Linked DNA regions of Homo sapiens: region 2 is linked to region 1. The links come from fine-mapping of genetic effects on gene expression. A gene starts in region 1. The other region holds a variant in brackets. All regions are shown on one strand. Distances are from middle to middle.

Evidence for each region. PIP is the estimated chance that this variant, and not a neighbour inherited with it, causes the effect.
Region 2: its variant is the best candidate, but not a certain one, in a credible set for the expression of BHLHE40 in whole blood (TOPMed, PIP 0.60).

What each region holds. Positions count from the first base shown.
Region 1 is chr3:4,977,147-4,982,518 of GRCh38, forward strand. It overlaps BHLHE40 (basic helix-loop-helix family member e40), which reads left to right and starts at 2,291. Exons shown (of 5, transcript NM_003670.3): 1 at 2,291-2,652; 2 at 2,816-2,885; 3 at 3,155-3,262; 4 at 4,246-4,369. The coding sequence starts at 2,573. BHLHE40-AS1 (BHLHE40 antisense RNA 1) reads right to left here and starts at 2,815. Exons shown (of 3, transcript NR_125916.1): 1 at 2,649-2,815. RefSeq lists enhancers at 513-702, 823-872, 1,003-1,122, 2,423-2,572, 2,680-3,274 and silencers at 1,233-2,002, 2,213-2,272.
Region 2 is chr3:4,905,854-4,911,225 of GRCh38, forward strand. The region is part of intron 1 of BHLHE40-AS1 (BHLHE40 antisense RNA 1); the gene reads right to left. Among named protein-coding and RNA genes, the nearest start is that of BHLHE40, 71 kb to the right of the region's middle. RefSeq lists enhancers at 299-1,004, 642-781. The variant A/G (reference allele first, on the strand shown) is at 3,213.

The DNA.
Region 1 (5,372 bases):
GCGCGTTTCCAGGGCGGACCCCGGTCCCCGCCTTTGGCCAGCAAAAGTACATTCTGGCAGGGAGGGATCTCTGAGCCCCGAAGTGAGGTCATGCCAGTTAGCAGTTAGAAAAGGAGGCATTTCTCACACTTGCTAAAGAGTTTGACGCTTGTGAAATATAAACAGGAAGCGGGAGCTCTCCAAGGCGACCTGAAGGAAATACACTGCCAGTTTGGTCAACTTGTGAATGCCAGTTCTCTAGGTCGTCAAGGGCACTGCCAGTTAAGACTGATCCCCTAACTGCACCCGAGGCTACTACTCTTCGCCCAGTCTCGGCAGTGACCCCATTTTTTTTTCAATCCTTCCCACAGCCAGGTCACTCAGCAGTGGGGTGACTGACCCGAAGCGCAGTGGGAAGGGCTTACAGTCATCTCTCAACTCCCCGAACTTGCAGGGCAGGGGAGCGCAGAGGTCAGTGAAATCCCCAGCCAGGCCTTATTTTAGTCATGAGTTTCCACTGGCTCCCTCCTCTGACTGTATCAGCGCTGCTCACACCGCGGGATTGGAGTTTCAGCTGTTTTCCCTGCTCCCGGCTGAGTGAGAAGGTCACAGAGCCCGGACCTTTCCGGGGGAGGTGGGTGGGGCCCTCCGGCAGCCTAAGTGAGATTGCAGAGATCTGGGGCCGCTGGAGGAGGTCCTTCCGCCCCGGGCTTGGGGCTTTGGGTTAGCTTCTCCCCCGCTTCTCTACCTAGGCATCTCGGTTACAATGAAATTAAAAACAAAACACAAAGCAACACAAGTTCTCATTGTTTTTCCCCTCTGTCAGCCAGTGGCCTCGATACAATTTTCCCAGGGCTGCCTTTCCTTTATTGCTCAATTTAACCTCTTCCTAGAGGTTCTGCAAGTTCAAGGGCAGGATCCGTGTCGGATTCATCAACTAGTGCAGCGCCTAGTGCAGAGCAGGGGGCTCAAGAAATACGTGTCGACCGCATGATTGCTAAGATTTCCCTGTAACAGGCGGTTTTTTTTTCTTGTCTCTCTCATCCCTCCTGCCCTGGGTGCAGACCGCGAACAGCGCCGCCGAACTTCCCAACAGGCAGGGAGAGGGCCGATCCGGGCTGGCACGCCACGTCCCCGGGGTCTCAGTCCCTGGGTCAACGCAGAGAGGCTCGCGGTCCGCGGTGCTACGACCTGAGCCCGGCCACGTGAAGCGTCACGCCCTGCGCTGCTGCAGGGCAGGCGCCGCCGCCGCGGTTGTGTAACGCTGCAGCCGGAGGGGAGGCGACCGGGGCGCCTCTGCTCCGGAGGGGGCAGAGGAGGGAGGGAGCGCCGGGCACAGCGCCCGGTATCTTTCTGCGCTTGACTGGCCGGGAGGAAGGGGGTGACACTGGGGCACCCAGGGGGCTGCGCAACCGGGTGCCCGCCCGCCCGCAGGTTGTGCCCAGGAGCGGAGCTCCTGGGAGCGAGGGGCCCTCGGCTCACACCCTCCACGGTCAGGTGCGCGCGGCGTGCTCGGCGGCAGCCTCAGCTGCCCCTGCGCTTGGCCGTCGGCCCGCTTCCCATGGGGTGACATCCGCCCCGCCCCTCGGTCCCTCCCCAAGGCGGGCAATTCCTGGACGCGAGGGTGAGCAGTGGGGGCAGGGAAGCCAGGACGGAAAGAAACCCCAGCCTCTGGGGAAGGCTGGGGGGCCGGGCGACTCCCTCCGCAGCGCGCCGGTTCCTCCAAGCGGGCCGGGCGGGGGAGGAGGAAGAGGGCTGGGCTGGAGCTAGCAAGGGGATATTCCTCTCCCGGCTTGAGTCAGACGCGGGCGGATCCGTCCTCCCCCGTTCCCTCCCAGGAGACGGGAACTTACTTCATTTCCCTGGGGCAGGTTCGCCCACGTTACCAACTTCTCCCCCTCCCCCAGCACCCCCGTCCCTTCCAGCTTCCGCGCCCCCCACCCAACTGGGCAGGACCCAGGTCGTGCTGCCACCCCCTCTTCGGGGAAAGGCGGCCGCAGCCGCAGACACCTGGGGGCCGGGGCTGGGGGTGGGGGCTCCCTAGCAGCCGCCGGAGCGTTGTCCAACACGTGAGACTCATGTGATGAAGCCGGGGGAGGGCGGGCAGGTCGCTCCTTCCCTCCCCGGCAGTGGCCAGACGTGCCTGGAGTCACAGGGTAGAACACGTAGCTCCAACCCACCCACTCGCTCCCATTTAACCCAGCCCGCAGCCTCTCCATTACTCCTCGGCTTGCCCCCCCACCCCCCCACTCCGCCCTAACCGCCCCCCCCTCACCCGCTCCCTCCCGCCTCCCCGCCCGCCCCACTTCTCATTCACTTGGCTCGCACGGCGCAGACAGACCGCGCAGGGAGCACACACCGCCAGTCTGTGCGCTGAGTCGGAGCCAGAGGCCGCGGGGACACCGGGCCATGCACGCCCCCAACTGAAGCTGCATCTCAAAGCCGAAGATTCCAGCAGCCCAGGGGATTTCAAAGAGCTCAGACTCAGAGGAACATCTGCGGAGAGACCCCCGAAGCCCTCTCCAGGGCAGTCCTCATCCAGACGCTCCGCTAGTGCAGACAGGAGCGCGCAGTGGCCCCGGCTCGCCGCGCCATGGAGCGGATCCCCAGCGCGCAACCACCCCCCGCCTGCCTGCCCAAAGCACCGGGACTGGAGCACGGAGACCTACCAGGGTAAGTTGGCACTCCTTGGCCCTTCAAGCCTCAACTGCAGCCCCATGTTATGCGCCACTCTCAACTTGGAGCAGCTCCGGGCGCACCGGGAGGTTCTTGCCCGGCAGAACGCCTGCAGCCGTGCGCAAGCAGTCACGACCCTTCCTGGTCTCTCTTCCTGCAGGATGTACCCTGCCCACATGTACCAAGTGTACAAGTCAAGACGGGGAATAAAGCGGAGCGAGGACAGCAAGGTAAGCAAGTGCACCCCTAGGGACCCTGCGCTCAGCCCCTCGCGCGCGCTGAGTTTCCAAGAAAAGTTTTCTCGCTTTGAGGTTGGCGAGGGGATGCAGGGTGTGGGCTCGGTGCCTCTTCTGAGTGACTTGGAAAAGAAAGGGCAGACGATGGTTCTGGGTGCTACTCTGCTACTCTGCTCCTCTGCCGGACTGTTGCTGCGGGGCTGGGAGGATAGGCTTCTCATCTCCTTCCCCAAGCGCCCACCGCCTCCCCGTGCGTCTTGCAGGAGACCTACAAATTGCCGCACCGGCTCATCGAGAAAAAGAGACGTGACCGGATTAACGAGTGCATCGCCCAGCTGAAGGATCTCCTACCCGAACATCTCAAACTTACAGTAAGTGAGAAGCTGGCCCCTTTCCAACCCAGTCCTTTGCCCAGAGGGCGGGCGGGTCACTCGCCGCCTGCAGGTTCCGCGGGGAACTGCAGACCAGACTGGCGGATCAGAGCTGGCGGGTGGCTCTGCGGTGGGGTCCTCCTCCACAGTCCTGGCGTTTTCTGGCTGACTCATGCAAATGAGGCGAGAACCACTTGGACCTCTCCAAGTTGGCTCCAACACCAACTGGCCTTCCTTTTCAGGAGTTTAACTTCTGGTGATTTTCAGGATTCCCTAGTTTTTCTCACTTAAAGGAACACGCCAAGAAACACACACATTTTATTTACCCCTTCCCCTCTACCACTCCCCCCACCTTTTTTGTTGTTGTTGTCAAATAAGGGGACTTGCTTTGGTGTGTGATTTTTACGGCCTGTCCTTTCTTGACAGTAGCCCTCGGCTACTTCGCAGCCTTTGGTTGGGGAAATGGAAAAAAAAAAAATAGTATTTCGGGAGGAACAAAAAAGCCTGGATGAGCTGGAAGTTCTGAAAGGGTGTAAGGAAAGAAGTAGGGAAAGCCTCTTGGCTGCCAGACGTAATAGAGGTCCCTCTCTGAGTTGACACCACTGCAGGAAAATGTTATCTCTGGATTCCCCTGAGTTAAGGTCGGCAGAGGCTGCTGGAGAAATTTATCTGTCAAAGGATTTTCCTGAGGTAGTTGCAGCTTCCAAAATGCCTCCAAAGACAGGTGGCACCCGTTTTTTTAAATTATTTAATTATATATATATATTATATATATATACACACACACACACACACACACACACACACACATATATGAGTGTATCTGTCTATCTTTTTAAAAGCATGACCTACAGACTTAAAACAGCCAACCAGGAAACACTATTCCACTTTTTTTTTTCTTTTCTCATTTCTCATTGCTAATAAATGTCCCAAAGGTGGGACTTCTCTGACCTCACCGCTGACTAAGGCTCTTTTCCTTCCAGACTTTGGGTCACTTGGAAAAAGCAGTGGTTCTTGAACTTACCTTGAAGCATGTGAAAGCACTAACAAACCTAATTGATCAGCAGCAGCAGAAAATCATTGCCCTGCAGAGTGGTTTACAAGCTGGTGAGTGCTGATTCTGGCTATGCTCTCTTTAAGAGTTTGAGTGCAAATAGAGAGCCCGTGGGCTCAACATCTGATGTAATAAACATTACTGCAACAAATTGCTTATGCACGTTCATTGGGGGAGATGCAGTTTTATCTTTCCTAAAAGGTCAGACTTTTCATTTGAAATGCATTGTGCCACCTGGCATGAATACGTATTAGTGAAATGATAAGATATTCCTGTGGCATTTTAGCTTGAGAGTCTCTGGGTTCTGGGAGATTTCCCTACTCCCTTTTAAAATGCCAAGGCACCTATAATTTGCATTGTGGGTGTTTTACAGTTGGTCTTCTTAGCCCTCTTTCATTGGAGAAGAAATCATGGGTATGCCCCAGCGTTTTCCTGTTTCTTTGCTTCCTTGTCACTTGGTGTGTGGTGTGATCCTGGCAGGATACAGCAGGAGTTTTTCCTGCATTTCATGTGGTTCCCTGAATAGCCACTAGGTATCTTGGTGAATTGCACAATCTAGCGAAACCACTGAAGTTTCATCATTCGTTTCTACTGACTTCCAGATAATCGGAGTCAACCTTCTAACCTTCTAGTCTCACTTCTTCCAAATAATACTGTACAGACTGGGGAGAATTATTCTACCCACTCCCTCATTTCATGCTTGTCTGCCTTCCTCTCGAAGGCTCGTATGATGAAAATTGCAAAAACCCAGCTAGTGCTTCTGCCTGTTTCCTCATTCAAAATAGGAAGATGGTCATACCTAATGTCTTGAGGATCATGGATAGAATATGTGGAGAAGACATAGAAATAGCCTAATTAAAGGTCACAGCATGACTGCAACTTTTACAAATCATTGAAAATAAGTTTACTTTAGGTGATTGTTGTTTCTTCATTCTTTTCCTCATTTTATAACTATCCAGCCTCTGCCCATTTTGCCACGGTGCAATGTTGTATGCATTGACTCTTAGGTTTATAAATACATCAGAATGTTCTTTGCTGCCTCGCTTACATGGAAAA
Region 2 (5,372 bases), 71 kb before region 1:
TGACAGAGCAAGACCTTGTTTCAAAAAAAAAAAAGGAAAAGAAAAAGAAAGAAAGAAAGAAAATGTCTAGGTGGGAACACAAGCTAAGGACCCAGTCTTCAAATTCCAGGACCTCTTGGATCATCCACATACACAACCTGACTCTCATTCACAGAAGCACTTTTCATGAAAACATTATATTACAATGATTTAAACACCCTTCTCCAAATTAGTTAACTTGCTTTACTTCAGATTAGCTAGTTTAAAGAGAACATAATTGATTAGTGAAAAAAACCAACTTGACTAATGAGTGAGCTCTGGGAATAGGTTTCTGGGTACCCAAGAAGCATTAACTCATACAAATAAGTCCAAACAATGACTCCAGCTGGGAAAAGAACAGAGTCAGAACAAGCAGTTGCCTAGGGCAATACATTACCAAGGCAGCGGACTCTGCAAGTGGTTTCTGTAGAACAAATGCAGGCTTTGAATTTAAATATTACCCACTTTGCTTGGGGTAGGTGAATCTGTAGATGAATTACTCACCCCAGAAGTTAAGCAGCCACTCTCCTGACCTCACTAGATGGATGACAGATGGATGTTTTAAAAGTGACTATTCAGAGTTCAGGGTGCAAATGAAGGCATTCACTATATGGCTGCATACACAGCACTGGCTATAAGCCAAGCTTGCTTTCCACCCCTTCTCTCTAGCCCAGCGTAGGCTGCTGACTATAAGCCAAACGCCAATCACCAGGTAGCAATGACTTGTCTTTGCACTGGCTGTGAGGAGGCTTAGTCTTTTTTAATCCTCTACTGCTTGCAAGTGAATTGGGCTATTGGGTATGTATGTATATGTATACACACACACACACACATATTCAAATATGCATATACATATATCTATCTAGCAAACCATCATATTTTCTTTTTTACTTATTTTTTGAGACAGGGTCTCACTCTGTCTCCCAGGCTGCAGTGCAGTGGGTGACTATAGCTCACTGCAGCCGTGGCCTCGTGGGCTCAAGCCATCCTCCCATTTCAGTCTCTTGAGTAGCTGGGACTACATGCACACGCTACCCTGCCCAGCTAATTTTAATTTTTTGTTTGTTCTAGAGACAAGGTCTCACTATGTTGTCCAGGCTGGTCTCAAACTCCTGGCCTCAAGTAATTCTCCCGCTTCAGCCTCCCAAATAGCTGGGATTACAGGCGTGATCCACTGTACCCAGCCTATATTTTCTTAGCCATATTTTTTTTCTTTCCTCAAACTCATTTCAGTTTATTTTATTCTTAAGCAGAGCCTATATTTGTATAAGCTGCTTCAATTCCCTCTATGGAAAGCCACAAACAGACAAATACATAAAGTGTAGAAAGAATGCTAATATGATAGACCGTGAGATCTCAGAGTCCTTTTTAGTGAAGCAGAGGTGTCACTTGTTTAAACTGTTAACCCTGGAGACTGTAAGTGTGAATCAATCCCTCAAGTATTCAAGTTGCAGGGCTCTCAAATTCAGGGTAAAAGAGAATTTATAAAAGCTCTAAAGAACAGGACAATTTATTGAATGGCTGTAATATGAATGCATGTTCACAAGGAATAATTCCATTTCCTTTGTTAAAATTCCCTTTTGTTCTTTGAGAATTCTTTTTTCACTAGCCAGAAAGCAAAATAGCACTGGAAACTGTTTTTGAAATGGACATCATTGGGCTAGATTGTTCGCAGCAATCTCTCTTGACATTGTGTATAATGTTTTATTACATCTGGAGCATCACTAAAAAAGAGGGAATAGAGTCCCACATTCACATATAGCTTCGTAAGGCAGCTATTGAATAGATCTAGCAAATCTTGTGGCTGTTTTGAATGTAATTATGAATCTCTGTCCTGGAGGTTGTCACTTCATTCTTAGGAAGGGGTAGTTCTACCTGTCACTAGGAGACTGGGCGGCCTAAGGAAACTCGTCAGTAGCTTGGGGCTCCCTTGTCTTTAAACTGAGGGGCCTGAAGTTAGATCACAGGGCTGTAGAATTCGCCTACTGCTTTCACAATCATTAGTTCTTTTGATCTTCACAGCAACCCTGAAGGGAGGCAGGGCATTTGTTATTTAATACACAAGGAAATGGAGGCTCAGAGATAAAACAATGTGTTTAAAGATCTTAGAGCAATTAAAATAGAACACCTGAGACAGAATCCAGTTCTTGGAGATCTGTTTTACTGCTGTTTTAGCACTGTGGTTCAGTTGGAATTTCCTACCTCACTTAATACGTAGAAGAAGAAAGTGAGAAAAACAGTGCCAGTGTTGGGGTGGACAGCAGGTGGAATACGCTATTGGTCTGACTCCTTATGGATTGACTTTTGATCTTGTAAAGAATGTACAGAGTCTAAATTTAGCAACAGCCAGCTAATGAACAGCTGGAGTCAGGTCACAAGTTTGGGGTGAGCATGGGTTGAACCAGCCCTGCCTTGCTTTTGGTGGGGCGCTTAGCAACAGTGCTACCCCAGGTGGTTCCATGCTGTAGCATATGCTCAACCTTTTAGTAAAGGCCACAGTCTTATTTAAAAACAAAACATCCAAAATTTCTATTATGAGCCTCCCAAATCCCCGTTAAATAAAAATGCAGTATTTTCCTCACTCTTCTTCCTATGCTGACATTTAGAAATACCATTTTCCTATTTCATTTTATATCTTCAGAGAGGAAACTATGTAATGCAGCAGAAAGAACCCCATTTGGAATTCAAGAAAGCCGGGTCCTCAGCCTCGCTTGACTTAGCTGTGTGATTTTCAACAAGTTACTTAACCTCTCAGAACCTATTTCTGTACAGGAAATCTAGGGGTTTTCCTATCTAAGCTTTGAGATCTTGTCTAACTCTCAAATTCTATGATTCATTTCCAACTTAGGTTTCTCTTATTTAATGTTTGCTATTTGTTTTGTTAGATATTAATTCATATTTGTGGGCCCAGTTTAACTTTCAAATAACAATATTTTTATTATTTGCATTCTATTACTCCTAGGTACGGGATCTCATCCCCGCTAGACCTTGCTTTGTTTTCCTGGGTAATCTTTCTATTATGTGTCATCCATCTCCTGACAAGCATTGCAGGTACCAGTGCGCTTATCACTTGCATCAGTTAGAATGAGAAAAGCCAATTCAAACCGCCTTAACGAGAAAAAAGATCTACTGACTCATGGAACTAAGAGTTAAGGAGTAGTGCAGGTTCAAGCAAAGTTGGATCAGAGTTCTTG[A/G]TCTATTTCTCTGTGATTTTATTGACTCTACTGATTTGTGTTTACGATGTTTATCCTGAGACAAACAGCAAGAGGATGCAATGGTTCAGGGCCTCCTATCCCTGCCCAAAAGGGACTATAAGAAGAATACTCTACTGTCTATTCTCTATTTTTGTAGCCAGGAAACTTTCTCTGGAATCCTCAGAAAACTCCCTTTTATCTCCTTGGCCTAAACAGAGTCACACACCATTCCTGAACCAGCCACTGTTGCCTAAGGAGTGCCATGCCAGGCTTGAGCCTGGGTATCTGAACCAATTGCTGGCAGGGAGTAGGGCTACCTTGACAGGTTTACACCAGTCAGTGCTACCCATGGAACTGAAGTCCAACCCCATAACTACAGAGTGGCTACATCATGGTGGAGGAGAGGATGTCAGAGAGGCAACCTTATTCCATTGTATCTTGCCCATCCAGCTCTAAGAACATGGGGGCAAAAATTGCATTTTCAGATCTTCTGCGTGCCAGGCACCCAGCTAATGTTTGTTACATTGAATAGAATGGAATGGAATGGAATTTTAGGTAGTGGTGAAGACAAAAACCAAAACAGAAAAATAACACGCAGTTCTCTGTACCTCTTCCTCTCAATTCTATTCTTGCCATGGCTGCTGTTCATGCTCCCTAACTTTCCCCACTATTTATATGTTACCCCTCTTATTTTTAGCCATAAGTTTTACTTAGTCTGAAGATAACCAAATATTTCCTGAATAATAAGTCTCTGAATATGCATATTCTCTAAATATGAATATAAGCCTATTTGCAAATCTAGCACTTACATTTAGAATGTTGTTGGCAGGACTCTGAAAATCAACTTTTTTTTTTAATGGAAAAATATACTACAGCAGAAGGATTTGTTTTCCACAAAGCAGAACCAACTTTTTTGATTTCAATGATTTTTTGATACTTCCGTATATATTTATATGCTCATTAAATAAATAAATATTAAGTCAGACCTTCTTGATTAGAGAATCGTCTGTCACTAAAAATTGGACTTAGGACTTACAAGTCTCTCTCATTAAAGAGAAGGGGTTGTAAGAGGGCTGGGATGCCTGGATTTATTCAGCCCCTCTTTCTCCCATTCTAGCTCCCAACGTGGTCCCATTCTCTGAGAAAGTACACAAGGCCCCGGGGCCAGGCAGTAGGTGATATTCATAAGCAACAAGAAATAGGAAGCCCTCTATATGGGTTTAGTAGCGCCCTCTTCCAAAACAAGACCACAGCAACCGGCTGATCGGGGCCACCCCTCAGGAAATGCTGGACCCAGGGCCACCCAACTCAACAACACTTTCAATCCTTTAGTAGCTTTTACTGAGCACACCATCTGCGTAAACTTCAGTGTTCTATGATATAGTCCCTGCCCTTGAGAGAGGTAGACAAGGAAACAGGCAATTACAATCCAGCAGTGAAGTCCCTGGAAGAGGTAAACCCAGAGTGCTACCAAGGCAGAGGTAGCACTGTGAGAGGGCTGCTCCATGGCCTAACACCAGAGGGGTCAGGATTCACTTGAAACACAATGCCCTTCCATGGAATGTTCTTCCATTTGTTTGTGTCCTTTTTTATTTCGCTGAGCAGTGGTTTGTAGTTCTCCTTGAAGAGGTCCTTCATATCCCTTATAAGTTGGATTCTTAGGTATTTTATTCTCTTTGAAGCAATTGTGAATGGGAGTTCACTCATGATTTGGCTCTCTGTTTGTCTGTTATTGGTGTATAAGAATGCTTATGACTTTTGCACATTGATTTTGTATCCTGAGACTTTGCTGAATGATGTCCCCTGCAGCTGTGCAATGTGGCAGCCCTGACCCCCGCCCCATCTTAGCATGGTCAAAGAAGCCTTCCCAGAAGAAGTGATATCCAAGCTGAGGTTTGAAGTAAGGAAGGGGAGAGCATCCAGACACTCTATACCAGGTTTGGAAGGGGGAGTGCACATATACAGTGTAAACATGGCCCAGCACTTAAAGAGGAATACAGACTGCACATCCTCAGGTGAGTGCATGGTAAAGGAGCACTCCTTCTATTGCAGGGTGAGATGAGGGATGTGATTATGTTCAGATACATATGGGCCTTAGATCTTTTTGGATACTAGCTGATACTTTATCAACAGTTGTCTTCCTGAGTTCTTGCATATCTG